7 linked regions of the Homo sapiens genome follow. The protein of the gene in region 1 purifies or fractionates together with the protein of each later gene. This does not show direct contact. Each region holds a gene or a part of one and is shown on either strand. Other genes may lie near its edges. The genes, in order: GAR1, KIF16B, RIOK1, MYB, COPRS, LYST and TAF1.

Region 1 (4,339 bases):
AATTTGATTCAAAATGAAATGCCTCAAAAAAACCCAGAAACTAGGCCAGGCGCAGTGGCTCACACCTGTAATCCCAGCACTTTGGGAGGCCAAAGCAGGCGGATCACCTGAGGTCAGGAATTCGAGACCAGCCTGACCAACATGGAGAAACCCCATCTCTACTAAAAATACAAAATTAGCCGGGCATGGTGGCGCATGCCTGTAATCCCAGCTACTTGGGAGGCTGAGGCAGGAGAATCGCTTGAACCCGGGAGGTAGAGGTTGCAGTGAGCCGACATTGCACCATTGCACTCCAGCCTGGGCAACAAGAACAAAACTCCGTCTCAAAAAATAATAATAATAAATAAACAAATAAATAAACCCAGAAACTATAAGGAAAAAAAAGGAAAAGATGTGGAAATAAAAGCTTAAAGATGGACAATGAAAAAAAGATATACATAAGCTAAACGGTAAAATTTCCAACTGGTTTGTCTACTGATCTATATGTTATTTCCATTATTGCCATTTTAGATTTATTTTTAATGTTAAAAAAACAAACTGTAGAAATGTTGCGCTATTATTATTTGTCCTTGGGACAATGCCATCACCCTTTGGTGCTTACTAACATCTTTTCCAAACCACGAGCAAAAGCCCTGGCCCTAACACTCCATGAAAATTTCATCACCACAATTCCAAATCAAATAATCTCCTGTCCTAAGCTGTAAAAGCATAACTGCCTATTCCTGTAAAAACTGTAATTTTCAACACATTTGCTCATCATATATATTAATGGCCTATGTATTTATTCATCCTGCTGCAATTCCATCAATCAGAAAAAGATAAAACCCCAAATACTGACAAAGACAACACTGTATGCTCCTCAAATGAGCATTCAAGAGCGTTCCTCCATGGGCATGTTAGAAAATTTAACAAACGATATAGAAACATCATTCCTTTTGAGAAGTGAAAAATGAATGGCAGGGTAAATGGCTCCATATCATGGCATTCTAACTTGCTACCACAGTCATTTCTTTACATCCACTAGCAATGGTGACCAAAACCAATTTCATTTCTAACATCCTTACCCAGCAATCTGAACATGTAGTATGCAATCGAATTCGTGTAGTATACTACACGAATATTTACGTGTAGTAAATAACACCTTAAACTTTTAGAGTCCCTTTAAAAAAGTAAAAATAAAATAACATTCAGTAAAACTTCTAATATTCCATTTATGTTGGATGAGAAAAATTAACTTTAGAAATTTCTTGCTATAGTTTTCACTTCAACAGAGCTACTGCATCTTTAATACATTACTAATATGGAAAATTTTTAAATCAATTATTAATTGCAATTAGAGAAACAGCTTAACTGATTTATGTATTAAAATACAAAAGGCAAATACAAAGCTATCTTCTCATACATAAAAGGCCAGGGTTTTGAAAGGCAGTGTCAACTTGTAAATTATCTTAAAGTACTGCTACAGTAGTCTATTTTTTAAAAGATCAGTAATATAAATAAACAAATCCTTTTTTCGATCTGCAATTCACTGGGTTTAAGCTTTAGTTATTCCTTTCTACTTTAAAAAATGGGTTTCATTTAATAAACACACTCTAAATAACTTAAGGGAATAAAACACTTTATTTTAAAAATTCAAATATGCTTCAAATGAAAACTCCTATCCATTTATTGAGCACCCACAGAGTGCCAGGCACTGTACAAAACATTAGAAAGACTTGTTCATGCTCTTTTAGAGCAAAATTCACTATTCCGTTGCACTTTGCATGATGCTGACATTTTAGATCCATTGTCATAAAATGACCAAGATCTTCAAGACTTGTTCAAGAAACAAGTTTCCAATCCATAGTAGAAACAGATCATGCAGGTTAATGCAGAAGTCAACTGGTGATGTCTGTCAACTGTTTCACTTAATGTCCTCTCCCTGATTAAGAGAAAATTAAAGTATTAAGGGCACAGAAAATGGATTTTTAATAGTATTATAACCTAAATCTCAAGTTTAAAATCAGCATTAGTTCCAATAATGTTTAGCAAACATACTTTACCAAATTTAACTGTCATTCATATTACACCTTTATTTTTCAAATTAATAATAAAGCAAAACAAATTAGAATTAGGTGAAAAAATTGAAAAGAAAAGGCAAAAAAAAAGTGATATAAAATGAAACCACAAATTAGGCTAAGCAAAGAACACCATGGTGTTCTATATACTTGCTGGCAGAGAAAATTAAACTTAAGTAAAAACAGAAAATGCCAGATAATATCAATTTTAAACATTAAGCAATTTAAAGACTTTTTAAAATACTCACCTCTGAAACCACCACCTCTTCCTCCTCTGAAGCCCCCACCTCCACCTCCTCTTCCACCTCTAAAACCACCTAAAAAACATTTATTAAATAATAACGCAAAGTATTTAAATAACAATAGAATATAATAATCATTAAGTTATTAACTGTATAACCTCTTATATTGATAAGCCTAAAAAGATCAATACAATAACTATAATTATAATGAATAAATATAGATTCACATATTTTATCAGGGAAAAAATTTTAGAAGATAAAAATGGAGAAACTGTAGTAGTTTACCAACTGGGCAACAGGCTAAAACCCCAGATTATTCCATTTCAATAAATTAGAAAAACTTGTTAAAGTATGATTCAGTCTTGTTAAATGTATGACTATTGCCTTAGCTCTTGCTTATGATAAATACTTTTTTGATTCAACTAAGGATAGTTTGATGGAACTGTGGCTTTTTATCCTAACAACAAAGGGTGGCAGATATGGGTGCTTTTGCTCTGGGGGTAAGATAATAAATATGATAGTTAAGATTAACTGAGCTACATAAGTAAGATTTTAAAAAAATAAGACAGCTGTGAATTTTTTGAAATGTTAAATGATACTCAACATAACATGAGAATAGGGGAATCTCTGTTCATCAAATTCTCAAGAAGGTACCCCTGAGAATTTTCCTACCTATATGGACACAAAAAAATACCTTTATGGAGTGAAATGGTGATTAAATTGAGAAACGCCAAAAGTGAGGCGTTCCTTCTCTTTTTCTGATCCAGTAACAAAAGCTGTCCAAGCCCAACTTTCAGCTCCTCTCCCTTTCCACTTTGGCTCTGCCCATCACCCCATCACTCGCCCTTCTCCTACTCACAGGGCATGGCAGCCCCACTCCCCAGAGCCCTGCTCATCACCTAGCTGTCCATAATGATGAATGTGCCCAAACCTTAGGGGAAAGGCATACATCAAAACAGGCATACATCAAAATACCCCAAAACCTTGGGGGAAAGGCATACATCACAACAGTGAGATCACAGTAATGAATTTATTAGTAATAGTTCTTGACATGACATCAGAAGATATGCATTTTAATTCTTGGGTCTGCCAATTGTTTGATTGGGGCAAATTAATTTCTGTAAGTCTCCGTTTCCTCATTCATAAAATAAGGATATCATCTATCTCAAAAGGTTTCGCTGAGTATTAAAAATATATACATGGAAATTAAAAGAATGTATGACCAGCTTTCAGCATGCAGTCTACACTCAATAATATTAACTAAGGAATTAAAATTAAGATAATCTTACGGTTTATTAAAATGTCCAAGAAAACATGAATAACCCAAAGAAATGAAGTCCCTCAAAAGTATACTTTAGTAGATTTTCTTCTTTTTAAGTAAGTTGTTGAAATGAAGCATTATTATTATGGACAATCTGCCAATATTGGAAAGCAGCTTTAATAAAAAGAACCATAAGGGAGGTTTGCTATGTACAAAGCTAAATTGTATTGTATGAATTAGCTGTGAAAGTCACAGTTAATTTCATTAGAAATTTTCCCCAAGTAACTTACCGCCTCTGCCACCACCTCTGCCACCTCCTCCTCTTCCTCCTCCTCGGCCTCCCCTGCCACCACCTCTTGGAGGTCCTTTCTCACCTGGAGGTCGAGGTAAAAACCTCTGCAGTGGCAGCAGCTTATATGGGTCTATATAAAACTGGAAACATAATAGAAGCAATTAGTATACAACTTGGGGGACAGTATAATATAATCATTAAGAAGCTACATGATAGAGTCAAAACTGCCTGGGTTCAAACCCCAATCCTACCACTTTCTACTACATATCCCTGGGTAGAGACTTAATTTCTTACTAACTTAGGTTTCTTTTTTTTTTTTTTTTTTTTTTTTACCTTAAGTTCTGGGATACATGTGCAGAACGTGCAGGTTTGTTACATAGGTACACATGTGCCATGGTGGTTTGCTGCACCTATCAACCCATCATCTAGGTTTTAAGCCCCGTATGCATCGGGTATTTGCCCTATTGCTCTCCCTCCCCTTCCCCCC
Region 2 (4,601 bases), on another chromosome or scaffold:
ACTGAAATGTACTTAAAGTGTCTATAAATAAATGACTGATCACAGAAACAGCTATTTCCTATCTCATGGACAGCAACAATGAAAAATGAATACATTTGGAAATGGACAGAGCAAAAAACACAAATGCTCCGCCCAGGGATAATAGGAGTGACCGAAGGCAAGCTTCCTGGCCCCACTGGTGGTTACCTCCTTTGTGCTTGGATGAATGTGCGGGCTAAGTCCAAGCCAGTGCTGACCAACCTCCCTGGAAGGATTTTTTCCCCTGTCTTTTTATAACCTGAACGTGAGGAAAGGCAGTCAAAGCCACCAAAATAAATCTCTCAGTCCTCAGGAAGGAGCTAAAACACTATTACTTCTTTTCCCAGGCTACAGGTCTAAGTATAATTAACATATTCTCTTTCACAAAACAAGCTTCAGTAAGATGGCATCCCAATTCCAGAATCTGCAAAAACAGCCAAAGCTATCAAAATAACTTAGAAAAACAGTCAAGAAACAAGGAAGTATCACATCAATCAACTTTAGACCAAACTGCTATATATCACACAACTGGACATTTCTAAATAACTTCTCTCTCTCTGACAGGCAAAAAGAAACACATACACACTCGATCTCTGCCACTCCACTCTCTCCCACTCCACTCTCATGCTCACACAGTTTCCATGTTTAAAATAAAGCAACAGAAGTTTAAAACCAAATTATGTGACCCAAGTCACTCAAGAGCACCTTTTAAACTACTAATACACCTTGTATAAGTGTATTTTGCACACAAAGATATTTTAAAATATTGTATAAGGAAAAATACCAGACATTTGCATCATATTACTTATAAAGTTCACCTAAAAGAAAGAAAAAACTTCCATGCGCTCCCAACTCAAGGTGTCAGCAACAGCAGCAACTCTCCCCTCCTTTCTCTTTCCAGCCAGCAGCCCCTTCCCTCCCTTGCTCCTCCAGCCTTCTTTCACCAACCCCAAACTCCCTGTTTTCTTTTTCTCTTCTTCAAAACAAAAAGAGACAAACAAAAAAATCTGTCTTCTGCTGAGCCTGGGTTTGTCATGTCCAGGTAAGGGCTGGGATCCAGGGATGCAGACCAGGCCATGCCTCAAACATGGAGTAAAAAAGTTTCAAAAGATTACAGGAGTCCTTGCGGTAATTTGCTGAGAATGATGGTTTCCAGCTTCACCCATGTCCCTACAAAGGACAGGAACTCAACCTTTTTTATGGCTGCATAGTATTCCATGGTGTATATGTGCCACATTTTCTTAATCCAGTCTATCACTGTTGGACATTTGGCTTGGTTCCAAGTCTTTGCTATTGTGAATAGTGCCGCAATAAACATACGTGTGCATCGCAAGGACAAAAAACCAAACACCGCATGTTCTCACTCATAGGTGGGAATTGAACAATGAGAACACTTGGACACAGGAAGGGGAACATCACACACCGGGGCCTGTTGTGAGGTGGGGGGAGAGGGGAGGGATAGCATTAGGAGATATACCTAATGTTAAATGACGAGTTAATGGGTGCAGCACACCAACATGGCACATGTATACCATATGTAACTAACCTGCACGTTGTGCACATGTACCCTAAAACTTAAAGTATAATAAAAAAAAAAAAACTGAAAGAAAAAAAAGATTACAGGAGTCAACCTCTGCTTAGATGAACGGAAATGAGGCTCCCTCCTTCCTTTCATCTCTCCATTAACTGGAAGGGCAGCAACAGGCTACCTCCAATGCCCTCACAGCCCAATCACACTGCACAAGCCTCCCACAACCATGGCACTGCCTCCCACCCCTCCACAGACTTGAGCCCGACCACCTGACTGTGCAGCCTCTCACACTGGCGACCTTCCCTCCTCCCAAGCCTTGAGCCCCCTGGTCAGGCGTGACATTCTACTCTCCTGCCTTCCTCCCTTCCTCTCTCCATGCCCCTTCTCTCTCCAACTTGATCCTCCACTCCTACCTCCTGAAATCTGGCTGTCAGTAACCATAGTGAGTATAAAAGATAATAGTAACTATGATTTAGTGGACAGTTATTATATATTTATTTATTTCATCTGATCTCAACTACTTATACAGCATTATTTTATGGAAGTGGTTCTCAAATGTTGTGGCCTCAGGACGCTTTTATAGGCTTAAAAAATTACTGAGGAGGCTCAAGAGCTTTTATTAACATCAATTATATCTACTGATAGTTACCATGTTAGAAATTAAAACTGTGAAAATTTTAAACAAAATGCACAGCCCATAGAGCCGTGACATCATCACACACCATGTAGTTTCTGGAAAATTTGACTGTACCTTCATGAGAGAATGAAAAAATGGAATATAACATCTTAGTAGTACTGTGAAAACAGTTCTGACGTTGTGAACCCCCTATAAAAGAGTCTCACTGATACCCAGTTGTCCCTGGACCACACTTGGAGAATCACTGTTTTACAAAACAGAACCTGAGCCTTAAAGAGGAAAATCAACTTGCCCAGTCACTCGGCTAGCCCACTGAAGAGCTCCAGCCTGAACCCGGCTCATGCAGCACTGCTGTTACCCTTTCTCTTTCTGCTTTACCCTTCCTGAGAGACAGAATTCACTTCCACCACAGCAACTATCACCTTCCAGTGACCCATCTGCAAATGCGCATCCGCAGAGCTGATAACTCACCTGAGTTTCTACTGCCCGGAGTTCCCACCAGCACCCCGAAACAAATCAACAGACCAACACGCCCTTCTACCCACCCCAACCCGCGTAGGGCCAGCATCACTGCCTTTGGGAAAGGTCATTCTTCCACTTAATAAGGCCCCAAGCCACTCAGAGTCATCTTTGACTCCCCACTTCTCTATGTCCTGCTGACTGGTCTTTAGAATGTCTCTTGCAACTGCAAAAAGCAGGATATAGAAGTGTGTACATGACGACGTTCCTACACAAACAGGAAAAAGACTAGGTGCAAACGCACCAAAAGTTTATGAGTAGTTAGCTCCAGATCGTGGGATTATGAGCAATTTGCGATTTGATTTCTTCGGTATATTTTTCTGCATAACACATACGTTTCATAAGCATACATTATTTTCATAATCAGAAAATACAGTGATTGCTTCTTCAGGGCTTTGTTTATAAGTTTTGTCCCTTGCCTCTGCCTTTTCCAATTATAACCATGCCCAGAATCCAATCGCCATGGGTCATATTTCAGTTCTCTTTACTGTCTTCCTGCACTGGTTGTCAGCACTCAGACAGACATCTTGAACCTCAGTCTTGCGTCACGGAGTGGTGGCAGGAAAGTCAGGGAGATAATAATGCATAAAAGGCACTTTGCACAGCCCTTGGCAAATGGTAAATAAAAGTTCACCATTACTGGTGCTAGTATTATTATTTCCCTACACTACTATTAGATGAAACTTCAGAAAACACTAATTGGCGAAAGACAGCCCTGTTTTAGAACCATCAGTAGCTCACAATGCCTAATAATATACCTGATATTTACAGAACGCTTACTTTTGGGCCCAGCACTGTACGAAATGCTACCTCATTAAATTACCATTCCAGCCCCACGAGGTGGGTCCTATGGAGATCTCCATTTTACAGATGAAGAAACTGAGGCACAGACATGTTCAATAAAGTGCCAAGGTATGGAGGTAGAAAGTAAAAGAGCTGGAATTCAAGCCTTTATTCAGACTTGCTGCACAAGAGAATTTTCCAGGATGGTGGATATATTTATATCTACATTATTGAATATGTGTCTGTTGAGCATTTGAAATGTGCCTAATGCAATTAACTAAAATCCTTTTTTTATTTTATTTTATGTTAACTTAAATAGTCACATAGGTGGCCGACAGTTATACTGGCCAGCATAGGGATCTAGAGATCAAAAACCCAAATGCCCAGGCTTCACAAAGAAAAGTCCTCACAACACCCTGTCTACCTGCCTTGCAACTAATTCTTACAAAATCTTCAATTTGTCTAAAATCATTAGTGAAATAAACATGTTCCTACCTTCCAACCACCCCCTGCCCACCTCTCAACTAAGTCTTCTGTATAATGAAAGGACTTTAGGAAGTTAGAGTAGGGGAGACTTGGATTCAAATCCAGCATCATAGTATCTAGCTATGTGACCTTGGGCGGTCTTATTTCTTATTTCTGAATAAGAGACCTCCTTATTACAGTCTCTGAGCCCTTGTTCCTCATCTGTAGAATGGGCTGACAATGCCAACTTCCAAAGAGTATCAGCCAAGCACCTAACAGAAATTATCTATATGGTCGCTGGCAATATCCCTTCAGGGCTCAACTCAAGTTCCACCCTCTTATCTAAAGAGATGGCAGAAGCACTGGAGATCTCTTCCTCTAGCCTCTAGAATCCCCTAGAGGTTCCATCTCAACCGTACACAGATTCTATTGTTATTTTTGTGTGTTGTGTATTCTCTGATCGGCATTTCCCTGAGGCCATGGGCTTCTGTCATCTGTAAGCCCAGAGGCAACGTCACTACATAAAGGGCTCTGAAGGGAACCGAAGCAGCTGGCTCAACCCAGCATTATTATCTGAGGGGTCTCAGTCTCCCCTGGCTTTTATAGGTCAGTCAATTGGTGAGAGGAGGAAATGCAATTGCCAAGGTA
Region 3 (4,601 bases), on another chromosome or scaffold:
TGGCAATCACCATTCTACTTTCTGTCTTTGTGAATTCACCTACTCTAGGTACCTCTTATAAGTGGAATCATATAGTATTTGTCTTTTTGTGTCTGGCTTATTTCACTTAGTATGATGTCTTCAAGATTCATCCATGTTATAGCATGTGACAGGATATCTTTTTCTTTTTTTGTTTGAGACAGGGTCTCACTCTGTCACCAGGCTAGAGTGCAGTGGCGTGATCTTGGCTCACTGCAACCTCTGCCTTCGGGTTCAAGCAATTCTACCACCCTGGCCTCCCTGAGTAGCTGGGACTACAGGTGCGAGCCACTACACCCGGCTAATTTGGGTATTTTTTGGTAGAGACAGGGTTTCACCATGTTGGCCAGGCTGGTCTCCAACTCCTGGCCTTAAGTGACCCGCCTGCATCGGCCTCCCGAAGTGCTGGGATTGCAGACATGAGTCACCACGCCTGGCCTAGGATTTCTTCTTTTAAGGCTGAATAATGGTCCAGTGTATGTATATACTATATTTTGTTTATCCATTCATCTGTGGATGGACATACGGGTTGCTTATACCTTCTGGCTATTCTGAATAATGCTGCTATGAACATGGATGTATAAATATCTCTTCAAGATGCTGCTTTCAGTTCTTTCGAATATACACCCAGAAGTAGAATTGCTGGATCAAATGATATTTCTATTTTCAAGTTTCTGAGGAACCCACCATACTGTTTACTGTAGTGGCTGCACCATTTTACATTACCACCAACAATGCACAAGGGTTTTAATCGCTCCACATCCTCACCAGCACTTACTAATCTCCATACCCTCACCAACACCTATTATTTTGTTTTTTGTTTTGTTTTGACAATGAGAGACCCCCTAATGAGTGTGAGGTGTATGTTATTATGGTTTTGGTTTGTGTTTCCCTGATTACTAGTGACGTTGAGCATCTTTTCATGTGCTTCTTGCCCATTTATATATTTTCTTTGGAGAAATGTCTTTTTTTTTTTTTTTAAGAGACAGGGTCTCTCTGTTACCCAGTCTGAAGTACAGTGGTACAATCCTGTCTCACTACAGTCTCAACCTTCTAGACTCAAGCAGTTCTCCTGCCTCAGCTGCTTCAGCCTGCTGAGACTATAGGTGCAGACCATGACACCCAGCCAATTTTTTTTTTCTTTTTCATTTTGTTGGGACAGGGTCTCACTGTGTTTTCCAGTCTGGTCTTAGACTCCTGGGCTTAAGCACTCCTTCTGTCTCGGCCTCTCAAAGTTCTGGGGTTGCAGGCATGAGCCACAGTGTCCAGCCCCATGTCTTTTTTTTAATCAGGTTTGGTTTTTTTTGTTGAGTTGTTTGTATTTTCTGGATATGTCAGATACGTGATTTGCAAATGTTTATTCCCATTCTGTGACTTGTCTTTTCACTCTGTTGATTGCAAGCTTTGATGCACAGAAGTTTTAAATTTTGATGTGATCCAGTTTATCTATTTTTATTTTTGTCTCTGAATCATAGAGTTTTGAACACATGGCATGTATGCCTCTACACAGGTTTTCAGGTTTGTTTGTTTTTGAGATGGAGTCTCGTTCTGTTGCCCAGGCTGGAGTGCAATGGCACAATCTCAGCTCACTGTAACCTCCACCTCCTGGATTCAAGTGATTCTCCCACCTCAGCCTCCTGAATAGCTGGGATTATGGGCACCTGCCATCATGCCCAGCTAATTTTTGTATTTTTGTAGAGATAAGGTTTCACCATGTTGGCCATGGCAAGTCTCGAACTCCTGACCTCAGGAGATCCGCCTGCCTCGGCCTCCCAAAGTGCTGGGATTACAGGCATAAGTCGCCTTGCCTGGCCAGGTCTTCAGGTTTTATCCTGTCCTTTCCTCTTTTTCCATTTCCTTGCAATACCTTCCCATTTCTGCCTTTGCTCAACTTTGCTCCGCCTGGTGAACTTTAAAGCTCCAGTTAGAAAGCTCTCTGGAGGGGTATTTCAGCAGAAATTGTTTTCATAGGTGTAGTCTCCTACAACTATAATAGAAGTAGTCACACTGTGTCACTTATTATACTAAGTCCCTAATTCTGTCACCCTCAATTATGAACTTTTATGGAACAGGAGTTTTCTCTATTGCCAAGTACCCAATATCTGGCCCATAGTAGGCAATCACATCTGTTAATGGAATAAATAAGTGTGTCATTTTTATTCCTCAACTTTTTAACTTAGCACTGACTTTCTTTTTCTTTTTCTTTTTTTTTTTTTTAAATGGAGTTTCCCTCTTGTTGCCCAGGCTGGAGTGCAGTGGGGCAATCTCGGCTCACTGCAACCTTTGCTTCCTGGGTTCAAGCGATTCTCCTGCCTCAGCCTCCCGAGTAGCTGGGATTACAGGCATGCGCCCCCATGCCCAGCTAATTTTGTATTTTTAGTAGAGATGGGGTTTCTCCATGTTGGTCAGGCTGGCCTTGAACTCCTGACCTCAGGTGATCCATCCGCCTCGGCCTCCCAAAGTGCTGGGATCATAGGTGTGAGCCACCGCACCCGGCCTCTTTTATTTATTTATTTTTTTGACGGAGTTTCGCTCTTGTCACCCAGGCTGGAGTGCAGTGTGCAATTTCGGCTCACTGCAATCTCCGCCTCCCAGGTTAAAGCAGTTCTTCTGCCTCAGCCTCCCCAGTAGCTGGGATTACAGGCACCCAGTAGCTGGGATTACAGGAGCCCACCACCACTCCCGACTAATTGTGTGTGTGTGTGTGTGTGTGTGTGTGTGTGTGTGTGTGTGTGTGTGTGTGTGTGTTTGAGATGGAGTCTGGCTCTCTCACCCATGCTGGAGTACAGTGGCACGATCTCGGCTCACCACAACCTCTGCCTCCCGGGTTCAAGTGATTCTCCTGCCTCAGCCTCCAAGTAACTGAGATTTCAGGTGCATGTTAGCATGCCTGGCTAATTTTTGTGTTTTTAGTAGAGACGGGTTTTCACCATGTTGACTAGGCTGGTCTGGAACTCCTGATCTCATGATCCAGCCGCCTCAGCCTCCCAAAGTGCTGGGATTACAGACGTGAGCCTCAGCCTCCCAAAGTGCTGGGATTACAGGCGTGAGCCTCAGCCTCCCAAAGTGCTGGGATTACAGGCATGAGCCTGTAATTAGACTGCACCTGGCCTAATTTTTGTATTTTTAGTAGAGACGGAGTTTCCCCATATTGCCCAGGCTGGTCACAAACTCCTGATCTCAGGTGATCTGCTGGCCTCACCTCCCAAAGTGCTGGGATTAGAGGCGTGAGCCACTGTGCCTGGGTCAGCACTGATTTTCGTGTCTAAACTCAAAAAAAAAAAAAAAAAAAACCTCTGCTCCCACTATTTTTTCCTTTCTTCTATATAGAGAAGAGAACACTCAGTTTTACAAACCAAAAGAACCCTTTGGAATCTTTGTCACCCTCGTTTCAGTCATTGTTTGCTCAGAGAGCTTTCTTCAGTGCAGCAGCAATAAAGCCGTATATTCAAGATTTACAGCCAGCCTTTGCAATTCCCTTCGCCGACTGCTCAGGATTTAAGGAATGGTTCTTTCATTCTTTAGGTCTCTGTATTCCTTTAGTAAATGCTAAAGCATTTACTAAATGCAAAAGCTAATTATTTAAATTTAGTAAAAGTAGCATAACTTTTGAAAAAGGGGGGCTAGGGATCCCCCTAGGCTAGAAGAGTTTGATTTATTGTTACTTTTGGGTTGATGGCAGCCTTTTTGGTGAGGTCTGTGCTGGAAAGCTAACTTGTACCATTAGACCTCACTAAATGCTTTCCTAAGTGTGAGGAGGTGATACTTAAAAAGACTGGAACAATTTTATACCAAAACTGGGACATGGATGTGCCTTCTGCAGTTTGAATATAAAAGAAAGTCATTTTTGTTTTCTTTCCAAGGCCATGGAAATAGCATCTCAAAGGACCAAGGAAGAACGGTCTAGCCAAGATCATGTGGATGAAGAGGTAGGATTTATTATCTATTCACAGCCTTTGGAAACACTTGTGTTTTGAGGGTTTTTTTTTTTATGTTGCTAGAGCATAAACTTGATTTAAATAGATAAGCAGCTTTTTCAAATGATGGTAATATTTCCTTAAGATATATTATAGTAAATGATTTAAGTGAGCCAAGTTGGATAGTTTACATTTCACTGTATTGGTCCACTCAGCAACCTGTTAGCCCATTGTCCTAGATGGAGAAAATTTTTAAAGAGCCTGTTAGGATATAGGCGTCAAGAAGGAAAAGCCTGTTTTTAATTTGCAAATGTGAGTTTTTAAATGACTTAAATATTGATTCTAGAAATGTTATAGATTTTAAATATTATGCTTTGATAAAAACGAGTCAGGGTGTTTTTTTGTGAAGGAGCCATAGTAGGCTTTTAAAAAAAATTCTCACAACTCTTAATGGTTGACTATGAGGTGCCCTGTGTTTGTCGGCAGCTCTCCACCTTTTTCACTGTAGCAGCTGGGTATGTTTCGTAAGGCATAGCCAGGCAGCGCTTGCCAACTGTAATTCCGCCCCTTTCCCTCCTGCTCAGAAAAGCTTTTTGGAACAAAAATGAAGGAGAAGTGTTATTCTAAGGATAATCTTGAATCAGCTCTAATGTTTTTTTTCCCTTC
Region 4 (4,601 bases), on another chromosome or scaffold:
TCAATACGATAACGCTTCATGTTTATTCTGACCGGTCGCGGTACAAGACTCCAACACAATGTAAAGTTCCAGCTGCCTTGGGGAAATTACTCCTTTGAATGTGGCACAGCAGGGCCTACACACCACGAGAGGGACATGGTGAAGTCTGGTGGATGATAAGATGCTGCTGATGAAGAATACTTCACTCTTTATCTCTCAAAGCACTAGTGAGAACTTCTGAGACCAAAAAACCTCCTACTCTTTGAAAGCCACCCCAATTGTTTTCTGAATCAGACAGAGACGAGAGTGGAAAATGGGATCCCAAAGGGAAAGATCCTAACCCCCAGTATATTTTCAAAAGGCAACGCATTTTTACTAAAGTCTTTCCATTCTCAGGAAAACAGTTTCTCAATTCAAAAAAACCGTTTAAGTCTCCCTTTTTCTATTTCAATGGGGGTGGGGGAATGTATGCTAAAGAAAGAGGAAGTTCAATAGCCCTGTTAATTTTGAGAAGAATCAGCAGTGTATCCTCTCAGGCCATATGGGAGGAAAGGCCTTTTTTTACCAACCTCTTAAAATTTCTAAGTTTATACTGAACCACAAGGGTGCAAATGCTTTGGAGCATCACTAGAGAATACTATATAAACTTTCTCCTGGATTATGAAGCTCAAGAATAAAACTATTTTTAATATTTTTGATCTACATCATTTTAATGCAAGATTTATCATTAAAAGTATTGCTTTCCAAAGGAACAAAATCTGTTATATACTACTTAAGTGGGAAAAATGGGACAAAATGAGCTTCCATAGTTATCCCTCATAATGAGGTCATTTTCTTGCCTTGTTCATTAAAAAGAAAGCATTATTACCCTGACATTATTTAAAAACCTGGAAGTAGTATGAGAATTCAAGAAATACATTATTTCTTTAATCAATGAAGTAAAAAATTAAGCAAAGTGGTATAATGAAATGAATACTGGTGGCCAGGTATGGTGGCCCATGCCTATAATCCCAGCACTTTGGGAGGTGAAAGGATTGTTTGAGGCCAGGAGTTTGATACCAGCCTGGGTAACATAGCAGGATTCCATCTCTACAAAAAATATTTTAAAATCAGCTGGGTGTAGTGGGGTGCACCTGTAGTCCTAGCTACTCAAGAAGCTGAGGTGGGAGGATCCCTTGAGCCCAGGAGTTCAAGGATGTATTGAGCTATGATCATGCCACTGCACTCTGTCACTCATGTGTGACAGAACAAGCCTCTGTCTCTAAAAAATAATAATTAAAAAAAATAAAAGAAATGAATGATGGTTATCAGGAAAATGGTAGCTGAGTTCCTTTGAGTAACTTAACCAGCTACGTGAACTGCCAGAGACAAACTGTCTTCAGTTTCTTTCTATGCATTTAGAGTTTTATAGTTTACCAAGTCCTTTGACATTCATTTTACTTGATCCTAACACTGGCCCTGTATGATTCATTTTGGAAATGGGGAAATTGAGGCTGGGGAAAGCTAAATGTCTTCACCCAGGGCTCACTGTCAGGTGGATCCTGGAAGTTCTCAACCAAATAAACTCTAAGATGTCTTCAATCTCTAAAAGCTATGTAGCTGGTTTATCTAATAAAACACTTACGACTGATGAAATATAATTTACTCACCATACATTTAAAGCAGAATGTTCAATACCCACTCCCTCATTCTTCCCGATCAATATATTTTTTGACATATTATTACCGTCCAGGCAGTAGCTTTGCGATTTCTGCCCATCTGTTCCCCAGTCTCTTGTGTGCCTGGTAAATAATTCTGTCTTCCTCTTCTGTCCAGGAGGTTTTCTTAACTTCTGGATTCAAGTGGTTATGCCACCTCTCCCTACATTGTTTTCCAATTCTCCCCTTTAAGTGCTTGGCAATAACAGACCAACGTTTCGGACCGTATTTCTGTACAAGCTCTATCACCTTCAGATAAACACACAAAAATAACCTATGTTTTAAAGTTATGTAATGAGTCAGTATAATCATTCTTCAGTGTTACAAGATCTTTAGAAAATTTCCAAAATTTGCTTTCATTCACTGGAAATATGGGAATAGAGTCCTCTACTTCCTGTTTGCCCATTTTACCTGCTTCCTCAAATAGGAAAATATTAGCATTTTGGGAATATTCTTAATTATGAGTCACACACCAATGAAGAAAGAACTTACTCTCTGATCTTCTTCTTTGGTCCAAGGACCCTTGATGAGCTCAGGGTTTAGTACTTTCTGCCATCGGTGCTGGCACTGCACATCTGTTCGATTCTAGACAAATAAAGTATGCACCACCATAAAGATATGATGTGATAAGCACGTGAATTTTTTGTTGTAATAGGAATCACACATAGACCATATGCAGTGAAAATATTTAAGAACATTTTAGAGCATGTTTAGAGCCCATCTATCCCTCATTACTTACAGGCTACAGAACATGCAAGTAATATATCAAAGTTGCATCTAAAATTAGACACTCTGCCTCCTGAGGGAAACATTCCTGCCACATGATCTAAAGGACCATCATACTACACATGTGCCTGCCAAGTTAACCTTAACCTCAGATACTTTTGCAGAGTATCTACATAGCCTGAGGCTTGATAGAGATTCTATGTTGTCAGGCTTTCATGGAAACCACCCTAAAAGACTAAAGTTTGCTTCCCATTCAGACAAGAGATGTGCTTCAATCCAGGACCAAAGTATTTATATTGCAGAAAGAAAAAAGATGCATAAAAGATAGGTCCTATGTTACAGGAGTTTGTAAACTTATAAGAAGGAAAAGACAAGTAGATGACTGACTATCACAGATGCTGAATTTGATTCACTTGGAAGAAAAGACCAAAGCAAAATGATACTGAAGTGAGGAGAGAAGCATCTTCTTAGGAGGAGAAATGGTTTCCTTGGGAGGAGTCTTGAAGAGCTCTTCATAAGGACTTTGAAGGATGGACAGAACTTTAATTGGTGACATAAAGGGAGAATATTCTAGGAGGTGGGAAGACCAGGAGCAAAAGCCCAGAGGAGGTAAAGCAGAAATAAATTCAAGCAAACCTGCTTAGAGAGAGGAAGCAGGAAACAGAACTGGAGCTGTAAGTTGGGGCAATAGAGGAGGGCCTCTGTGTGCCAAGTCAAGGCAGTTTACTTAATTTGTGAGATTCTGTCACTGTGGTTGGTTTTGAAAAGATAAGGTACAGCTGCATTTTAGGAAGTTCCACCTGCCAATGGTGTTTGGGATGAATGGAAAAGTAGAAGACTGGCTGGGCACGGTGGCTCATGCCTGCAATCCTAGCACTTCGGGAGGCTGAGGTGGGCAGATCACTTGAGGTCAGGAGTTTGGGACCAGCCTGATCAATATGGTGAAACCTTGTCTCTACTAAAAATACAAAAATTAGCCAGGCATGGTGGCGGGCACCTGTGATCCCATCTACTAAGGGGGCTGAGGCACGAGAATCGCTTGAACCTGGGAGGCGGAGGTTGCAGTGAGCTGAGATCGTGCCACTGCACTCCAGCCTGGGCAACAAAGCTAGATTCCATCTCAAAAAACAAAAAACAAAAAACAAAAAAAAAAAAAAGAAAGAAAAATGGAAAACTACAAGTGGGGAAGCCAGTTAGGAAGTTATATGATAGTCCAAATGAGAGGGCAGGAGCCCAACCTTCAGCACAGCCATGAGAATGAAAAGGACGGGACTGACTATAAAGGAATTCCAGGGTCCTTAGTAACTGCTTAGATGTAGGGGTTGGGGGAATGTGATAAGTCAAGAAAGGTCTTCAGAATTTTAAACCTTGGTGCCAAAAGTATTGCTATTGACAAAAATAGGGAATTCAGGAAAAACTGACTTGGAGGAAATATCAAGTTTAATCAACTACCATGTAACAAATCATCAAAATACTAATTATCCTATAAATGAAAAGATAAAACAAGAAGCAACTGTTTTTAAAATTTGATAATCTAAATTATAATAATCGATTCTAATAATCTAAATTCTAATAATTTAATTATATGCATTATAATATAAAATATAAGTTATGGGTAGGGCATTTCTCCCACTTCTTAAATGTGAGTAAATTATACACTATCTTAATAACTCCTCCTAGAATATTTTATAGAAATCTTTGGGAGAAGCTTTCCTTTCGTTATAAGAAAAACTTACTAACTTACCGGGAGATAATTGGCAATAACTTTCCAGTCATCTGTTCCATTCTGTTCCACCAGCTTCTTCAGTTTTTCATCCTAAGACATTTAAAGGTAATCCTAGGATATCAGTTATTTACTATATAACTCTGTTCAAGTTAAAGTGAATGAGGGAACGAATCTAGAATAAAAAGTCTCTCTAAAGTATCCGAATACAGGAGATATTAATGTAATATACGGACTTGGGAGTATAGATTTATTTAGAATCAGACCAGAGTTGGCATCTTGACTCAACTATTAATTGTGTAAAGCGGGTATACCATTTTACCTTTCTGGGCCTTAGTATTGCCATCTATAAAATGGAAATTAACAGGGTTATTTGGGGATTACATGGGGCAATTTATTAACATGAGGCTGATATTAACAGGGTTATTTGGGGATTACATGAGGCAATTTTGCAAAACATTTATCATAATGCCTGG
Region 5 (3,538 bases), on another chromosome or scaffold:
AACAGGAAAACAATCAGCTACAAAATCACCAGTGTCTCCTGGATTCCAATCCTTGGTCAACAGTGCTAGATCTACAGAAGCAAAACTAAAATTTTTTTTCTTTCACAGAGTAGTTTTAAGCCTCCAAGCGTTTGAATCTTTAAAATGTCATTCAGGGACTTTAAATGAAGTAGTGAAGGCTGGGCACGGTGGCTCACACCTGTAATCCCAGCACTTTGGGAGGCCAAGGCGGGTGGATTACTTGAGGCCAGGAATTTGAGAACAGCCTGGCCAACGTGGTGAAACCCCATCTCTACTAAAAATACAAAAAATTAGCCGGGTGTGGTGGCGAGCACCTATAGTCCCAGCTACTCAGGAGGCTGAGGCACAAAAATCGCTTAAACCCAGGAGGTGGAGGTTCCAACGAGCCAAGTTCGCGCTGCTGCACTCCAGCCTGCGTGACACAGTGAGACTGTCTCCATAAATAAATAAATGGGAAAAAAGCAGACGAAGCATACTGGTTTCTCTTTTTAACCTTTATTTACAAAGAACACAACTCCTCTTGACACAAACACACACACATTTCAAGGAGGAGCCCATTAAGAACAACAACAGACTGGCGAGAATGACGGGGCCTTATTGAACACTGTCAATAAGGAACACTGGTCTGTGTACCCCAGACTAGGGGTCACTGCAAACATTTTCTCAGATATGACTTTTCACCTCCAAGACAGGAAAAGAGATCTTGACGTGGAGGCCCGCCCACCTACAAGGCAGAAAGCTCCACACTCAATCTTCAGCATCGTCAAACTGTCCTGTTTCAAAGACCATCTTGGAATAATAGGGTATCAGTGGAGGCGGATGGTGCCAGCTGGGGTCATAGATCATGTCTCCTTGTGGGGCACAGCACACCCAAGGTTTAAGCTCTTGAGAAATGCTCTCCTGGATGTCGTCAGCATCTGCAGGCAGTTTTAAAAGACAGATTAAGGGAAGGAAGGAGGGAAGGAAGGAAGGTAAAAACGGACAGCCAAAAAGGTATGTCTAGGGGACAGATCCTTGCACTTATTTTGTTTAAAAACACACACAGTTCTCCTTTCCTGAAGAATTGTAAATGCGTTCATTCGGAACAGCTGAGAAGCTATGCTTCTCAGACAAGGGTTCTTAGCAGTGAAGAAGCAAACTGGATAACACAGCACTTCTATCTGCAGCTGCTCAATTCATAGCAGAGATTTTTGGAGAGAGTAACAGTTTTGACTTTAAAACAGTGATACATTATGGAGTCAAATGCAAAATTTGGATTTTTTCAATATAAAAGAGAAGGTGTCACAGAAATTGGAGACCTGTAACAGATACCAGCCTAAGCTCATAGATGTGGACCCCTGTTCCAAACTGCCTTCAGGGCTGGTCTGACAGGTGTGTCTGAGAAGGCCTAGTTCAGGACCCCCAGAGACTCCACACCTACCATATGGATTCCCTTGATCTGCTTTCAACTCCGAGTCCCAGTCCTCATTAAAAAGATCGCCAGGCTGTTCCTTGGGTGGACAGTTTGTCCCTTCTGACAGCTCCCAGGTATTCAGTTCTCCATCAGAGTCCTCCTCATCCATGGCAAAGCCTTCCTCTTCAGAATGGGTGCCCTCACCCCGGGCAGGACTGTCATTAGGAATGCTCTGTGTTCCACGGGCTAAATTGACAAAGAGAAGATGGCCTTAGTGACAAACCAAAGAGGACCTGCTCTGTGCTCAGTAAATTTTGGGCAGACTTACTACGAAGGTAGTAAAACAAGTGCACAGAGTCTTCTTTAGCCACCGAGCACTTTTTTAAAAATGCACTTCTTTGTATGTTTTTAAAAGAGCTGATAATTTATTTTCAATAAGACGTTTTGTCTTATACAAGGCATTAATTGTCAGGTCCTTTAATTTACAAAGAGGGCTAGGGACAGTTAACATTTTCAGGTGGTTTGTATGTCACTGAGGCAAAGGGCCTCTGATAAATAATACACTTTCACAATACAAGCCTGAATTAAGTTTTTGCTCTTTTTTTTTTTTTTTTGAGACAGAGTCTCGCTCTGTCGCCCAGGCTGGAATGCAATGGCACCATCTCGGCTCACTGCAACCTCTACCTCCCAGGTTCAAGCAATTCTCTGCCTCAGCCTCCTGAGCAGCTGGGATTACAAGCGCCCGCCACCACGCCCAGCTAATTTTTTTGTATTTTTAGTAGAGACGGGGTTTCACCATCTTGGCCAGGCTGGTCTTGAACCCCTGACCTTGTGATCCACCCGCCTCGGCCTCCCAAAGTGCTGGGATTACAGGCGTAAGCCACTGTGCCCGGTTGTTTTTGCTCTTTTATTCCTCCCTTCAGCCTCAAAGAGCATGTTAGAGGTGAGCACAGGGACAAAGGGGAGCAGGGGCACTGCAGGCAGAAGACCAGAACCCATCTAATCACAATGGGCAGCACCTAGTGCCTCCCTCTGACATCAGGGAGGCCGGAAGGTACATTTTCAAAAGGCCTCACAATAACGGAGGAAAGACTGGGGAAAGATAATGGATTTCCGAGCACATAGTGCTTTGGTGATGCCAGGTCCCAGGAGAGAAGGCAATCAGCCTAAAACAGCCATGCTCTTAATACTGGAACAACAGTAACAGTGATAAGCAATAAAGTGATAGTTCAGAGCAAGGGGTCTAAAGCCAGACTGTCTGATTTCAAATCCGTGTTTTGTCAATTACCAAACATCGGACTGGGCCGGGCACGGTAGCTCACCCTTGTAAACCTAGCACTTTGGGAGGCCAAGGTGGGTGGACTGCTTGAGCTCAGGAGTTCAAGGCCAGCCTGAACAATGTCGCAAACCCTGTCTCTACAAAAAATTCAAAAAATTTAGCTGGGTGCAGTGGCATGCACCTGTAATCCCAGCTACTCAAGAGGCTGAGGTGGGAGGATCGCTTGAACCTGGGAGGTGGAGGCTGCAGTGAGCCAAGATCGTGCCATTGCACAGAGTGAGACCCTGTCTCCAAAAAAAAAAAAAAAAAAAAAAAAAAAAGTGTGATTGAGCTGAAATTTACTTAACTAGTTCCATAACATAAATATAGAATTACCATATGACCCAGCAATCCCAGTCCTAAACATATACCCAAAAGAACTGAAAACAGCTGTTCAAATAAAACAAGGATACTCACAGCAGCACTATTTACAATCACCAAAAGGTAGACACAACATCAAATGTCCATCAATGGATGAATGGAAAAACAAAATGTGGTATATGCATATGATGGAATTATTCAGCCATAAAAAGGAATGCAGTGCTGATACATGCTACGGCATGGATGCACCTTGAAAATACGCTAAGTGGAAGAAGCCAGACACAAAAGGCCACATATTGTTATGATTCCCTTTACAGGCAACTCACATTTGCCTATCCAGAACAGATAAACCCACAGAGACAGAAAGCAAATTAGTGGTTGCCAAGAGCTCAGAGAAGGAAGGAATGGAGAATGACTACTTGGTGAGCACAGGGTTTCCTTTTAGGGTGATGAAAAGATTCTGGAACTAGGTAGTGGTGATGGTT
Region 6 (4,601 bases), on another chromosome or scaffold:
ATTTTGTAGCCTAAGACTTTGCTGAAGTTATTTATCAGATCTAGGAGCTTTTGAGCTGTCTTGCTTTCTATGAAAAAGCCAAACCCATTCCCAGCACTTCATATACTTGCTAGGAGCCCTTTTCCTCCAAATCTTTTCATGGATTCCTTCTTCTCATCAATTAAGTATCTGCTCAAATAGCCCATCCTAAATAGCCTGTCTAAAATGTTACCCTTTTTGTCACTCTGTAATCTCTTTCCTAGATAATTTCCTTCATAGCACAACATTATATCTGAAATTTTCTTATTTTTACCCATTATTTTCTGTCTCCTGTGCTAGGAAGTAGGCTTCATGAGGATATGGATATTGTGTTCACTACAGCATTTGAAGTACCTGACACAGTGCCTGGCCTGTTTAGTAGGGGGATCAAGAAATATTTGTTTAACGGATAAAAGAGGAAAATGGGCATTCAGACAGTAACACTTCAGCAGGGTGTTTGCTGGAATGGAAGCAAATCAGGAACATGAAAGCTAAGTTTACTAAGGGAAGCAGGTAGGGTGTTAGAGAAGTCTCCCCACAGAGGAACTAAAAACCTAGAGAATGAGTTGCAGTTTGGCAGATGGGAGGATGGGGATGGAGAATTGCAGAAACAGTGTATGTGAGGAAGACCTATTGGGAGCACAGAGACCAGTAGTTTTCAGGGGAAACCTTTACCAGCTAGATGTATGCGGAGGGCTCATGTGTGGCAGAGGGAGCTGACACTGGACAGCTCAACAGGAATCATTGCCGTGAAGGGTTTTCTATACCTAAAAAGGGGTTTAGATTTTACTAAACCCCTTTTTTGAAGAATTCTGAGCCTTTTCACAACCAGGACACCAGAAGGAGTAGTCTGAATGTCCTGTCTTTACTTTCTCACTTCCTTTGACTCCTCAGCCTATTGTAATTGGAGTTGCAGTCAAATCACTCCATTAAAGCCGTTAGTTAAGGGGCATTCCAGTTACTAAATGCTTTTCGGCCATCATGTCACACAGTGAAAGGGCAACAGCTTTGGCCCTGCTGACTCCTTTCTTTCCTGAACTGGTCTCTTCCTTGGTTTCTCTGGTTGTACTTCTCTTTCTTGGGGCTATTTTTCAATAGAAGCCTTTTCAGCCTTTTCTTTAGCATTGCCCATCTTTAAGTCTTTAAAGTCCGGAGTTTCATTCTTGATGGTCTTCTATTGTCATTCTATATTCTCACCCTGGGAAAATTCACATATCTTCTTGCCTTCCACCCCAATTACTCCTAAATCTTGTTATTTACTTCATATTTTTTTAAGTTCCAGATCTATATATTTACTGTCTACTAAAAAGCTGTCTTCATTAGGATAGTGCATAGACGTCTCAGACTCCATATGTCTGAAAAGTGAATCCATCATCTTTATCCCAACCTAATACCACTTGTAAATTTCCTGTCTTGGTGAATACATTATCAGCTACCTAGATGCTGAAACCAGTAACCTGTGGGTCCTTTTAGATCTTTTCTTTTCTCCCTTATGTGCCATAGATAATCAACTGCAAGTTATTTTAGTTCTACCTTACAGTTTCTCAAATATGTCTCCTTTTCCCTTCTGTTGTTGGAGTACTTCAGAAAGTCATCATCTCTCTCATCTGGATTATTGTTACCCTGCCTCTAACACTGCTTCCCCTTCCAACTAATTCTGTTCAGCAAATCTGATTGTGTCATCATGCGACCCCCTCTCCCACTGATTGGTGTAAGGCGAGAACTCAAACTTGATTTGTCGTTAAATCCTTTACTACCCATGTCCCAGGTGTCCCAGGTCTAGCTCTCTAGCTCCCATTCTCCTTCCATACTTCTGATAATGACTGCTCCTTTTTCTGAACTCCTAAACTGAATGCTTCTACCACCCCTGGATACTTACTCATACTACATGCCTTCTGCTGTTCTTTAACTGTTTATGTGTATGTATTTTATGGACCAAATGAGGGGACCTTCTCCAGGGCTTGGACCATATCCTCCAGAAAGGGTAAGACAGTATTTTTGTGGACATAGTATGCAGTCAATAAATATTTATTGGATTACATTCACTAATAAGTCTTTCTCTCCTTATATATTATTTATTAATAATGTCAATTTCTCTTTTAAAATCGTCTCTGAGTTTTTCATTTAACTGCATGAAGGCTTCACATTTTTCTAGTAACTTTGTAGCATTGCTTTGCTAATTAATAGGGCTTAACTTTTCATTTTCACCTAGCAAATCTGTTTCTTCATAGGTAAGGAATTCTTGCAATGTGCATGGTGGTAATAACAGCTATTTTTGGAAATATCAGCAGGAGTGTGCTAAATACTGTCAAATACTCTTAGATTCTTCTATCATTAGAAAGGCTTATAAACTTAAAAGTATCACAGCTTTAACTGGATTGAAGATAGGTTAATTTGATTCTTAGCTTTTCAAATGCAGACTTTCAAGAAAAAGGATTTTTTGGTTCAGTTTAAGACAAGACATTAGGAACTGATGTGTCTTATCGCCTTAGAACATGAAGGATTCTTTTGTTACTGACATAGGCATTGACATGTAGAGAAGAACTCCTGACTCTTCTTCTGTCTCTCCTTCCACTGGTATGGAAGATACCTGTCCAAGAAGAAAAGGCAACAGGTATGCTTTTTCCCTTTATCATATCACTTGTGTTATCAAAATTTCATAGAAAAGTTACTTCTGCCTGAATGTTTGATTCTGATTCAGATTCAGAACACTATATGTTATTGTGATTTATTCATACTAAATATGAAAAATTATTTAGGCAAACACATTTTTCCTTCAATAATACAAAAACCATGGTGCTTCTTGGGGGAAGTACTTGAATGTACTGATGATTAGAAAATGTATAAAGAAGCAGAAACACTTATCAGAAGGAGTGAGTCTAGGTGTGCAGCATAACATCAGAAAAATGGATAGTGAAAAGTTGGAAGTGAAAAGTCTGAATAAAGAAATTAAAGTTTCTTTGCTTATTTTAAAGACTGCTTTCTATTACCAGTATTCTATAAGTGACTTTTGCAGTATTTGTTTTAGCTTAGTTTTTCTAGTGTTGCCTTTAAAGTATAATTTTTTTTTTTTTTTTTTAGGCAGAGTCTCACTCTGTCACCCAGGTTGGAGGGCAGTGGAGTGATCTCGGCTCACTGCAACCTCAGCCTCCCGAGTTCAAGCAATTCTTGTGCCTCAGCCTCCTGAGTAGATGGGATTACAGTCGTGCACCACCATGCCAGACTAATTTTTGCATTTTAGTACATACAGATGGGATTTCACCATGTTGGCCAGGCTGGTCTCAAACTCCTGACCTCAAGTAATCTGCCCACCACAGCCTCCCAAAGTGCTGGGATTACAGGCATGAGCCACCGTGCCCAGCCTAAAGGATATATTTAATATTTTGTTTCAAGCTTGGGTAGAATTATTCTATGTAAGGTCGATAGATATTTTTAATTTATGATTTTGAAGAAATCATATGTCTATAAAGTACATGAAACTTTAAATGTTTCATTGGAGAGATTAATAGTTTTCCTCTTGACCCTTTCTTGTGACATGTTTGTGAGATGTTTGAAGATCTCTCAGGTTAAAAAAAAAATTATTGTATTTTAATTCCTGTATTTTTAGTGAATTTCATGGAGCTTTTTTTAAGGAGGTATCTAAGGTTTTGTAATACTGTTTTTCTGCTTATTTATTGATTCACTAACTCTCTGCTTTTATTTTTTTCTGAGTTTGCAGAATTCACAAATTGTTAATCACTTAAGAAATCTGATTAATGCTCTTTGGGGGAAGTTGTCTTCATTGTCTGCATCTTTTGCTTGGGTGGAATTTGTCAGACTCCTTTTAATTTCTCCTCTTCCCATCTGGTTTGCTTTCCCTGTCTTAGTAAAGCACAGATTTTTTTATTTACAGATTTTAATTTATTCACTCTAAATTACAGCTACTTTTTTATATAGCTCTTACTACATACTGCAAAGAGAAAGACTGATCTAATTATCTTTTTAGTTAAAGGGAGAATTCATTCATTTCCCCTGTGAAGTATTTACTGAGTGTTGACCATACGCCAGGCCCTATCTAGGCACCGGGGATGAAATAATAGTGTCTATACCTGGTGCCTAGTTCAGTGCTGAAACATTTGAGAAATAATTTGAATAAAGAATTATTTAAACCTCAGTTTTAGAGAACATTTGGCATATAGTGTATGATTTTGAAATAATTTTAGAAAAATCTTAAAGTAGTTAAATTATATCAGGTCTATGAATACTATTTTTGAGAATATAATACATCCTTACATTTTAATTAGTGGTACTATGGGAAGAGATTTGTAAATGGTGTGAACAACAGCACTAAATACCAGATAATCTACAGCATCTCTTATGTTGAAGTTAGAATATAATATATAGTTTTAAATCAGATTTACTTTCTTAACTCTGTTCTCTTTTGTTTGTTGTTGTTGTTTTGAGACAGAGTCTCACTCTGTCACCTGGGCTGGAGTGCAGTGGCACGATCTCATCTCACTGCAACCTCTGCCTCCCAGGTTCAAGAGATTCTCCTGCCTCAGGCTCCCAAGTAGCTGGGATTACAGGCGTGCACCACCACATCT
Region 7 (4,601 bases), on another chromosome or scaffold:
TTTACCTATTTTCCAATTTCATAATCAAAATTTTCAAACATACTGTAAAGTTCAAAGAATAGTACAGTCGGCCCTCCATATCCATGTATGGGTTCTGCATCCGTGATTTCAACCAACCATAGATAGAAAATATTCAGAAAATACAAGTGCATCTGTGCTGAACAGGTACAGACTTTTCTTGTCATTATTCCCTAACCAATAACAGTGTTAACAACTATTCACATAGCATTTACATTGGAGTAGGTATTATAAGTAATCTAGAGGTGATTTAAACTATAGGAGAGGATGTGCATAGGTTATGTGCAAATATTATGCTATTTTATCAGAAACTGGAACATCTAAAGATTTTGGTATCCAGAGAAGGTCCTAGAACCAATCTCCCAGAGATAACGAAGGACGACTGTACTATGAACACTTATTATCCCACGTCGCTGTTTATATTTCGCCATTTTTTTAAACTTTTATCTTTCTATAGACTTTGCTGGACAGTTTTTGAAAGATGCAGTCATTCTGACACCTCACCTTTAAATATTTTCACATGCATCACCTAACAATAAAGACATTCTCCTAAATAACCAAAATAACATTCTATCACATCTGAGAAAATAACCAATTCCCTAATACAATCTAATACCTGGTACATTCCCTTAATTTATACCCCAATATCCTTTATAGCTGTTTTCTAACCAGAATTCAATTATACCTTGGCCTTTTTTTTGATGTGCTTTAGCAAAGGTTGGACTGAGTGGGGACCTGGCTGAGAAAGTGCACCAAATGAGTACTTTTTCAGAGGTGGGCGATGGAACTGCCGGAGTTTGATGGGCCCCATGTGGGTGGGAAAGAAGGGCTGCCGTAATTCCACAGCAGGAATTGAATGCTAAAACAGGAAATAGAAGGGTTAAAATTAGCTAATTCCATCCTAAGCAAGATTTTCCCATATCCTCCGTCAGAACAAAGCCATGGGGTTCTCCTCTATCACAGAAAAGACACTATTTGTACCTGGATAATATTCCCTCCAAAGGTGCCTCGAAGACCCTGTTGCTTGGGATAATAATACTCATCATTGGAGAGATTCCATGGATCTTTCACTTCTGGCTGAGACATGTTCTAATGATAGATAATCAAACAAATCTCGGTCAGACTATCCTTCTCTATTACCTTTCTTTGTTCTTCTAAACACCAAGCCCCTTTTTTCTTCACACACCTGCTGTGGTTCCTCCTTGATGACTCCTGTTTTCCCTAAGAGAATTCGACTCTTCTTCAGAGATGATTCCTTCTTACTCTCCTTGGAGGGGGAGTTAGAGGTGGCCTCTTCCTTCTCATCAGGAATTTCTGAGAATAAAACAAAAATCACTTGAGTTGCTCTCCCTGAAGATTCACCTTTCCTACAGACAAGTATCCAGTTTTCTTCTTTAAGGTGACGGATGTTCCAGTGAAGGTCTTAACTAGACCTTTCATCCCACCCCCCCCCAGGTAACTTCTAGTCCACGATTTACTAACTGAACTACACCTGTATCTTTTCATCCCATCCCAAATCACTTCTAGTACATGATTCACTAAGTGAACTACACGCTTGACATCTCAAAGGTACTACTTTCCGACAGTCCTACATGAGTTTTCCCTAGGGAATACACAAATAATAAAAACTAACTGCCACAATTTTGCTCTCTCAAACTGCTACCTAGAAGTTTCGAGTCCATGATTCACTAACGGAACAAACTATGCTCTTGACATCTCAAAGTTGCAACTTTCCAACATTCCTACGTGAGTGTTCCCTAAGCATATACACAAATAATATAAACTAACAGCCAAAACTTCGCTCTCTCAAGCCGCTACCTACAGGTTTCTAGTCCTAATCATCTCCAACCCTTCTGATTTCCTCCTGCCCGTTGACATTAACAGCAAGTTTTCAAAGGAGAAGAAACACTGGCCTCTGCCAGTAATATACCCAAAATGAGGTTCTCATCATTGGGATCAAGTGTCAAAACAGGAGGTTCCAACAGCCGGGGCATGGCCTGAGCATCCCAAATGATATTGTCCTCCCAGCGTCCATATACCAGATCCTCATTGTCAATGGGAAAAATGGAGTACCAAGGTTTGTCATCATCAAGAGTGGCTGCAAAACCTAGTCAAAGTGCAAGGAGGAAATAGTAACAGAGAAAACATTTATGCCCCTTTCAATCAAGATTCTGGCAAAGATAAAAAGAGTTACTCATGTTAGTAGAGCGAGTTAGTGGAGTTATTCATGTGTCCACTGAAAAGGAACCTACACAGTGTATTTCTCACTTTAAAATAATGTTGCAGGCTCAGCACGGTGGCTCACACCTGTAATCACAGCATTTTGGGAGGCCGAGGCAGGTGGATCACTTCAGGTCAGGAGTTCAAGACCAACCTGACCAACATTGAGAAGCCCCATCTTTACAAAAAATACAAAAATTAGCTGGGTGTGGTGGCACATGCCTGTAATCCCAGCTACTCAGGAGGCTGAGGCAGGAGAATCACCTGAGCCCAGGAGGCAGAGATTGCAGTGAGCTGAGATCGTGCCATTGCACTCCAACCTGGGCAACAAGAGTGAAATTCTGTCTCAAAAAATAAATAAATAAAAATAATGTTGCAGTCAAAAATGTCCACTGCAATACTGTTTATAATAGTTGAAATTTAAATAGCCTAAATGTTTAAGAAGGAATTGGTTAAATTATGACAATAAATGATATGGTAAAGTATGCTAACAATAAATGGTAATAAATTGTATTAACAAATGCAACATGTTATCGGTAAATTATGAAACATTCGTAATAGTAATATATAACCCATAAAGTGGGCAGAATGGAAGGGAAAAAACCTATTTCTTAGGTTTTAAAAATCAGACATTTTTGTATCCGGGTGTGGTGGCTCACGCCTGTAATCCCAGCATTTTGGGAGACCAAGGCAGGCAGATCACTTGAGGTCAGGAGTTCAAGACCAGCCTGGCCAACCTGGTGAAACCCCGTCTCTACTAAAAATACAAAAATTAGCTGGGCACAGCGGTGCACGCCTATAATCCCAGCTACTCGGGAGGCTGAAGCACAAGAATCACTTCAACCTGGGAGGCAGATGTTGCAGTGAGCCAAGATCGCGCCAACACATTCCACCCTGGGCGACAGAGACTCTTGTCTCAAAAAAGAAAAAATTTTGTTTTTCCTCCAAAATATAAAAGTAATCCAGCTTTCTATGTTTATATAGTCTGCTTTTTTTCATTTACACTAATAGGATATCATATATGTTGTTTCATATCTTCTTTATTTCCATTTAAAATGAGTTTCTCAAGCCAGACGTGGTGGCATGCCCCTGAAGTCTTGGCTACTCGGGAGGCTGAGGCAGGAGGATCACCTGAGCCCAGGAGTCCAGCCTGACCAACAATAGCAAGACTCTACCTCTACAAAAAATAATAATTTAATTAAAATAAAATGAACGAGTTTCCCATGTCATTAAACATTTTTATAAAGAACTCTAAATGACACAAAAATATTTATGTGGCTGGGTGGGGTGGCTCTTGCTTGTAATCTCAGCACTTTGGGAGACCGAGGCAGGAAGATCACTTGAGTCTAGGAGTTTGAAACCAGTCTGGGCAACAAAGTGAGGCCCTGTCTCAACAATGAAAAATAAAAAATGAAAGAGAGAAAAATATTTAGTAAGTGAAAAGCACAGTATGCAAAACTGTACATACGGAAATGAGCTCAACTACATACACACACAGAACACTGAAAATACACCAAAACTTAACAGTTGATAATCTCCAGATAGATTACCAGTGACTTTAACACTATACTGTATTTTCAAAGTTTTTTACATTAATCATGGCATACCTTAAAAAAAAAAACCTATTTAAGGAGAAAAATAGGAAACTAGAATTCTAAATACAAAGGGACTTGGGAACAAAAATATACTATAAAGTACTGTTATAGTTCAGAAAGATCTTTAACTTCAGGCCAGGCGTGGTGGCTCATGCCTGTAATCCCAGCACTTTGGGAGGCTGAGGCAGGTAGATCACCTAAGGTCGGGAGTTCGAGACCAGCCTGACCAACATGGAGAAACCCCATCGCTACTAAAAATACAAAATTAGATGGGCATGGTGGCGCATGCCTGTAATCCCAGCTACCCGGGAGGCTGAGGCAGGAGAATCGCCTGAGCCCAGGAGGGAGAGATTGCAGTGAGCTGAGATTGCGCCACTACACTCCGGCCCAGGCAACAGAGCAAGCAAGACTCCGTCTCAAAAAAAAAAAAAAAAAAAAGATCTTTATCACATGTTTTTAAGAAACCTGAGTCTGGCCTAGCTTCTTAACAGGGCAAAAAATTACATGGACTATCTTCCTCCAGGTTGAGCATAAAAATAAAATAAAAATTACAGGGACTAGAATTAGGCCTCAGATCCTAAAAATTTCACTATCTCTTGGCAGCTCAGAACATCACAGCCAGCCGGGCGTGGTGGCTCACACCTGTAATCCCAGCACTTTGGGAGGCTGAGGCGGGTGATCACCTGAGGTCGGGAGTTCGAGACCTGCCTGACCAACATGGAGAAACCCCATCTCTACTAAAAATACAAAAATTAGTCAGACATCGTG

The links.
Region 2: the proteins of GAR1 (region 1) and KIF16B purify together in Homo sapiens (affinity purification with mass spectrometry; one large-scale study listed by BioGRID and IntAct). This does not show direct contact.
Region 3: the proteins of GAR1 (region 1) and RIOK1 purify together in Homo sapiens (affinity purification with mass spectrometry; 4 studies listed by BioGRID and IntAct, with this or other methods). This does not show direct contact.
Region 4: the proteins of GAR1 (region 1) and MYB purify together in Homo sapiens (co-immunoprecipitation; one large-scale study listed by IntAct). This does not show direct contact.
Region 5: the proteins of GAR1 (region 1) and COPRS purify together in Homo sapiens (affinity purification with mass spectrometry; 4 studies listed by BioGRID and IntAct, with this or other methods). This does not show direct contact.
Region 6: the proteins of GAR1 (region 1) and LYST purify together in Homo sapiens (affinity purification with mass spectrometry; one large-scale study listed by BioGRID and IntAct). This does not show direct contact.
Region 7: the proteins of GAR1 (region 1) and TAF1 purify together in Homo sapiens (affinity purification with mass spectrometry, with the first as the bait; one large-scale study listed by BioGRID). This does not show direct contact.

The regions. Positions count from the first base shown.
Region 1 is NC_000004.12:109,822,000-109,826,338, reverse strand, and holds the end of GAR1 (H/ACA ribonucleoprotein complex subunit 1), read right to left. Parts: intron 3,993-4,339; coding exon 3,851-3,992; intron 2,375-3,850; coding exon 2,306-2,374; intron 1,922-2,305; coding exon 1,908-1,921; 3' UTR 1,602-1,907; downstream 1-1,601. UniProt on the Homo sapiens protein: Required for ribosome biogenesis and telomere maintenance. Part of the H/ACA small nucleolar ribonucleoprotein (H/ACA snoRNP) complex, which catalyzes pseudouridylation of rRNA.
Region 2 is NC_000020.11:16,563,059-16,567,659, forward strand, and holds part of KIF16B (kinesin-like protein KIF16B), read right to left. Parts: intron 1-4,601. UniProt on the Homo sapiens protein: Plus end-directed microtubule-dependent motor protein involved in endosome transport and receptor recycling and degradation.
Region 3 is NC_000006.12:7,406,505-7,411,105, forward strand, and holds part of RIOK1 (serine/threonine-protein kinase RIO1), read left to right. Parts: intron 1-3,881; coding exon 3,882-3,947; intron 3,948-4,601. UniProt on the Homo sapiens protein: Involved in the final steps of cytoplasmic maturation of the 40S ribosomal subunit. Involved in processing of 18S-E pre-rRNA to the mature 18S rRNA. Required for the recycling of NOB1 and PNO1 from the late 40S precursor.
Region 4 is NC_000006.12:135,187,451-135,192,051, reverse strand, and holds part of MYB (transcriptional activator Myb), read right to left. Parts: intron 4,219-4,601; coding exon 4,147-4,218; intron 2,262-4,146; coding exon 2,169-2,261; intron 1,926-2,168; coding exon 1,705-1,925; intron 1-1,704. UniProt on the Homo sapiens protein: Transcriptional activator; DNA-binding protein that specifically recognize the sequence 5'-YAAC[GT]G-3'. Plays an important role in the control of proliferation and differentiation of hematopoietic progenitor cells.
Region 5 is NC_000017.11:31,851,371-31,854,908, forward strand, and holds the end of COPRS (coordinator of PRMT5 and differentiation stimulator), read right to left. Parts: intron 1,661-3,538; coding exon 1,442-1,660; intron 939-1,441; coding exon 769-938; 3' UTR 501-768; downstream 1-500. UniProt on the Homo sapiens protein: Histone-binding protein required for histone H4 methyltransferase activity of PRMT5.
Region 6 is NC_000001.11:235,811,002-235,815,602, reverse strand, and holds part of LYST (lysosomal-trafficking regulator), read left to right. Parts: intron 1-2,541; coding exon 2,542-2,632; intron 2,633-4,601. UniProt on the Homo sapiens protein: Adapter protein that regulates and/or fission of intracellular vesicles such as lysosomes. Might regulate trafficking of effectors involved in exocytosis.
Region 7 is NC_000023.11:71,379,267-71,383,867, reverse strand, and holds part of TAF1 (transcription initiation factor TFIID subunit 1), read right to left. Parts: intron 2,126-4,601; coding exon 1,949-2,125; intron 1,333-1,948; coding exon 1,205-1,332; intron 1,108-1,204; coding exon 1,000-1,107; intron 878-999; coding exon 704-877; intron 1-703. UniProt on the Homo sapiens protein: The TFIID basal transcription factor complex plays a major role in the initiation of RNA polymerase II (Pol II)-dependent transcription.